2 separate regions of the Homo sapiens genome follow, and region 2 is linked to region 1. A link means that fine-mapping ties the variant in region 1 to the expression of a gene that starts in the linked region. Tissue or cell type: whole blood. Region 1 holds a variant in brackets; the other region holds the start of a gene. All regions are shown on one strand. Distances are from middle to middle.

Region 1 (2,764 bases):
TATGGAATTGGGACTCAGCCTTCCACGGAGAGGAAACTGACTGGCGACTCTTGGTAACTCCAAGAGAGAGTGATGAAACTGATTCCAGGAATGCAAAAAAGAAACCAAGAAACTGGCACTGCAACCAGCAAATGGCTGCTGCCAGGATGAAGTGCCATTGCTGCGGCAACCCTGAAAGGAACGGCCTGCAAAGCCGGACGCAGTAGCTCCCCTCACCCCGCCATTCGGTCTCCCTCTAGCGTGCCCTACTGGCCAAACTTATTAAGAAGCCAGATGGCAAAGCGGATATGCAGAGCGCTGAGACTAGCCCGGGGAATCACAAAGCTGGTGGGTTTGGAGCTGAAAGATAACAGCTTAAAAACTGGCACTGACGTTGAATTAAGGAAATTAAGATGTGATAACTGATAAGAATTCTTTCATTCTAAATCATAATATTATTCTGTGGTAAAAACAAGCTGAGGTACTGACTCCAGAAATAGAGCTGAGCCTGTCCAGAGGCTAGATGGCTGGGGACTTCTGAGAGCAACAGAAAAGATGAAAATGTTCAAAGCACAATTTTGTCATCTGATCTCCTTTTTTGAGTCTCCTTTGAAAGAATCACTTCCTCGGTGCTTCAGTGACATTCTCTATAAAACTGTACTGACTTTTTACCCTACTCTACGCTATATATAAATATAAGCCAAAACCACATAGGACCTGGCTATATTTGGTATGCCTCATCTATCATGGATAGTTAATTTGTGCATTCATCTTTTAAAACTAATAATGAATTTCTAAAACCTTTTAAACGGGCTTAAGTTTTGTAATCCATTTACGGAACATGCCTGCAATGAAAAATTAATTATTAAACAAGAGCCTTGGGAGGACATCAGCGGCCTTGTCACCCACGCACTTGATTGATAACATGTCAGTTTCCAGACCACGGAGGGTGCTGACAGCTCTCAAATTTAAACCCGGAAGGGTAATGCTAAGCATGTCATGGCATAAGTCACATTTTTAAATTATTTTTTATTAAATGTTAGATAGAATAAATTCATCCATGCCTCTCAAACTCAGCCTGATTAAATGAGCTGGCACTCTTTCAAATGTAAAGCATGGTTATGGCTTCTCAAGGGCATCGGAAAGGCTGAAGCATAAGACACGGTAAATACAAAAGGCAAAAGAGGTGGACAGTGATATATTCACAAGCACCACGGGCGAAGTGAGGTTTTTAAAAATGCTGAGGCTAACAAAACAAGGGCAGCACGGTCCCCAAATGGTAAATGCACCTGCAGTGAGAGACTCTGCTTGAGTGCTGGTGCATAAAAGTGTCCACCACTAAGGGAAAAAAACAACAGTAACAACAACAAAACCCTAAGAAACAGAAAGGAA[C/T]AGCTGTAACCAATTTTCAAACCCTAAGTTTTGAGGTTGGGTTAGGAAGTTAGAATTGTTCCATGTTTGTGTCAGTTCTACCCTTTAATTTCACAAAGTTAAGATGGTTTTCTGTGACTATAAAAAAAGAAAAGAACATCTGTTATAGTGTGTCTTCCTGTAGCAAAGACTACTGCTTCTTGAGCTTTTCTTCTTTCAGGCAAACCTCAATCTCATTCTATAAAAAGATTGAAAAATTATGTATATCAAATATACTCGAGCAGTTCAGAGAGAACATATCATCTGCATTACTGCTGTCTAAAAATCCTCTGATATACTGAATTCAAACTAAAAGAACCTAAATGAAGAAAACAATAATTTACTTAGACCCAACTGGGTCACAATATTTGAAAAATGATACAGATTATTTTCTCTGTATACTATGAATTATTGTATTAACTTCATTTATTTTTTTTCAATAATTATTTGCAATTAATTCGGCTGATGGGCTAAACTCTCCAGAAGATACAAATATGTGAACAACACTGTCTAGTCTTGCAGAGCTTTGTATTTAATGGGAAGATACAGTAAAGGAAAATGTTCTGTCTTATCTGAGAGGCACAAGGAAAGTGCTATGTAAACTGAAGCTTGGGTTCTCAGAAGAGGTTTCATTAAGAGAATATCTTACCAGCGGGACATTTTATTGAATGTTACTATTTTTCCAGGTAGTTGGAGTACATTGGTGAATAGTCACCACTCTCTGCCCTTGTGAAGCTTGTATTCTAGTGAGTACAGACAAGTAATATTCAATACACAGTAATAAATATGTTATATGACATGTTAGAACATTAGTGTTTAAAAAAAAAAGAAAAAGCACAGGATAGTTGGGATTCTGAGTTCTTCATGCTGGGAATGAGTGATTATAGTTTTAATTAGGGTGGGTGAGGTAGGCCTCACAGAGAAAGAGATATTTGAAAAAAGATTCTACTACATTCTTTCAACTTTTAAACTAAATAAATTTAATTGTTAAAGAATAAGTAATTTGATATGTGAAGAATTTTAATAAGCATTGCTAGTGTGAGAGTGTTTCAAGAAAGGAAATAGCATCAACATTATAAATTAAGTTTATGTGTATGCTCAGTGCCTAGTACCAAACTGACATACAGTAAGCACACAAAAATGTTTACTGAATAAATGTACAAGTAAACTGATAGTATTATGAAATCCCTGAATGAATGTGTCTAAATGTGAATAGTACTGTTTGGCTAGTAAGTGTCTGGTTTCTTGCAGAATCGTAAAAGAAAAAGCTAACAAGTTAGGTGGAGACCTTACTCCAAATGCAAAATTAAAGGATTTTTATAGAAAATTCAGTATAGAATTGAAAACTAAGTTTTTAGCATCAAGGAAGAAAAGA
Region 2 (2,764 bases), 230 kb after region 1:
TTCTCCTCTTCCCCTCCCCCTGTCTCACCCTCCTCCTAGCCTCTAACCTACCTCCCTCAGTCTTTTCAGGTGCAAGTGAAAAACACTAAGTATTTAGCTACGGTTCCTGCTAATTGCTTTGTCACATGTCAAATGTGTTTTCTTCTCTGCCCCACTGAGTCACCTATCTTTTCTAAAAAGGCTATCTTTTTCTTTCCTCCCAGTTCTTCAACTGCCTTCTAATACAATCTTACTGGGAAACGAGCATCCGGACATGCCGCTGCAGCGGCATCAGAAGCAATAGTCACCGGCCTCTACACATCCTCATTGCCTAAAAGCACAACAACAAGACTTCAGATTTCTTGCCCACAGCTTGCTCTCCTTTCTCCATATTGACAAATTATCCTCATTAGGATTCATAAACACATTAAAACTTTTAAAAATGTATAATAATATAGGATTCATTTTCCTAGAGGTGGAAGAGAGTGCCGAGATATAAGTGAAACGCAGCTAACATTCCCATGTAACATCACAATATTTTCTACTGAACATAAAAGAGAAAAAAAATGCAATTTCTTAATCCTGATCTCTGGTTAGAATATTAGTAACATTTGCCACACATAAATACTGCAACCCAATCATGCAGGTAAAAAGGCTTCTGCTTAGATAACTGCAGTTTAAATGGGTGCAAGGCTCCAGGCAGCTACCTACTTGAGTAGGACTGGTCAGTTCTCAGGCTCTAATCTTATCTGCATTAGGCTGCACAGTAGCTGATGCCCGCGATTAGTTCCGGCAGAGTGATGCAGGTAGGGATGCAGATACAGCCGAGTAGGTGAGCTCTGCCCCAACCGTCTACCCAATTACAAGCATCTTTCGCCTACACTGAGGACACATCTAAACACAGAATTTACAATTGTGCATGCGAAACTTTACACTTACGTTAGTTGCCTCAACCTTTCCCCTTTCCCAGTATGCTGCAGTTAGGAATGATTTGTTCCAACACATAGAAAGCCATGCATCTGGTAGCACCAGTTTGGGGAGAAATCAGAAGCAGCAAAATGTTTCCTCCTTGTAAAATGTGTTGCTTCGGGCTGGCAAATTAGCAACTCCAGAGAACAAATTCACGGATTTGTCGTTAGTCATTCTCTCCACATTTCGTCTCTCTTACCCACTGGGTCTGGGTTCTTCTGGGCATTTAGCACACACAACACATAGTTGCACTTCTTCAGCTCAGGGATATTTTCCACAGCAGCATGCATACCATTTCCATCCGATGCCAATACTGCTTAAGTCTCTAACTTCTTGTAGGAAACGTCAGAGTTGCGGTGATGATGATTCTCTGACAGCTATCCGGGTGACAGTTGCCCGAAAAATTCCTAATCGGTTATCTCTTGCGTGCTTCAGAGACTCTGAGGCGCTCCTTTCCGTCTCGCGTGCTCTCCCTCTCTCCCTTCCCCTCTGCCCCTCTCTCCTTCTCCCTCTCCTCTCTCTGAACTGAATTTCTTGATATAACTCTCAATAAGCCCAGAGGGAGGGCGTGACTGCCCAGGCCCCGCCCCCGGGCTCTGATTGGCCTGCATCTTGCGGCGCGGGCGGCCGCAGCCCGGCGCGAGGGAGGGAGCGCGGAACAAGGCGCTGACTGTCTCCCAGCCTCCCCTCCTCCGCGCCCCCTCGGCAGCAGCGAAAACCCGGAAATCTGATCCTGGCCCCAGGAGAGCCGGGTTCCATGAGGTGCACTGAGCATGCTCTGCAGGGTCCGGCGTGGGAGGGACGCGCTGGCGCTCCCCAGGCCCGGGCGGAAGCGGCGCTCGCAGGCGCTGAAAGCGAGCGACCCTCTGAGCCCGGGTGGTCCGGCGGGCAAGGGCGGCGCGGGAGACCCGCAGGGCGCGGGCGCGGATCCGGGGAACCAGGGCCACCGCTGCGGGCGGATGGGGGTCACCGAGGCGGCTCGTCTCCAGGCGCACACTTCGCACATCTCTTTGCTAAGTGAAGGGGCCAAAATGCACAGATGGGGGAGTCTACCCAGGAACAGAGGCGCGAGACGTATAGCCACCCCTGGGTTGGGAGCACGAGCCAGCAGATCCCCGGAGCGCGTTAAACGGACAACATGCCCGGTGCTGCAAATAGAGGCTTTTGCTGGCAGGGACATTGGAAAGAAGGGCGGAGAGGGAGTACAGCGAAAGGTGGGGACCGCAGAATTTGGAATCTCTGCGGAGACCGGAAAGAAAATTAATCGGAGCACTTCCTACATGCAGAGCCACGGAAACTGCCTTGGAAAGAGAAAGTGGCAGCGTCTGGGTCCCCTCGGTCAGCCCGGGCCAGTCGGCTGCGCGTGCGAAGTCTCCTCTAGCGGAGCGGGACCGGCCGCGGCGGTGGATCGTGGCGGTCCCTGCACTTCTGCTCCAGCCGCGCCTGGAAACCTGAGCCCGGACTCGCGGCTGCTGCAAAACCCGCTTCCAGCCCACCTCACTGCGAACTTTGCTTCCGAGGGGCTGGAAGGAGTCCCAGGCAGCTGTTTCCCAAGCTGTGGAACACTTCCTTTCCCCTAGGCACTTTCTGCTGATTCCAACTTTCTTTCCTGTGATTTTCGTCTTTTCCCGTGCATTTCATTTCTCCGACTCCAGCTCTGTACTAAATCCTCACAAGTTTCTCGTTTTCATACGGGAACTGGATGGAATGACTCCCCAAAAAATACAGCTTTATTTCTCAAATACTGACCCCCAAAGCACTATCTAGTAATATATTTGATTGATCTTTCAAAGTCAGTAAACCACAAAGGTTTGTG

Evidence for each region. PIP is the estimated chance that this variant, and not a neighbour inherited with it, causes the effect.
Region 2: it holds the start of PCDH9, and the variant in region 1 is fine-mapped to the expression of PCDH9 in whole blood (TOPMed, PIP above 0.99).

The regions. Positions count from the first base shown.
Region 1 is chr13:66,994,147-66,996,910 of GRCh38, forward strand. The region is part of intron 2 of PCDH9 (protocadherin 9); the gene reads right to left. It overlaps PCDH9-AS4 (PCDH9 antisense RNA 4), which reads left to right. Exons shown (of 3, transcript NR_046637.1): 2 at 2,076-2,135. Among named protein-coding and RNA genes, the nearest start is that of PCDH9-AS4, 4.6 kb to the left of the region's middle. The variant C/T (reference allele first, on the strand shown) is at 1,372.
Region 2 is chr13:67,228,862-67,231,625 of GRCh38, forward strand. It overlaps PCDH9 (protocadherin 9), which reads right to left and starts at 1,475. Exons shown (of 5, transcript NM_203487.3): 1 at 919-1,475. RefSeq lists a silencer at 1,746-1,885.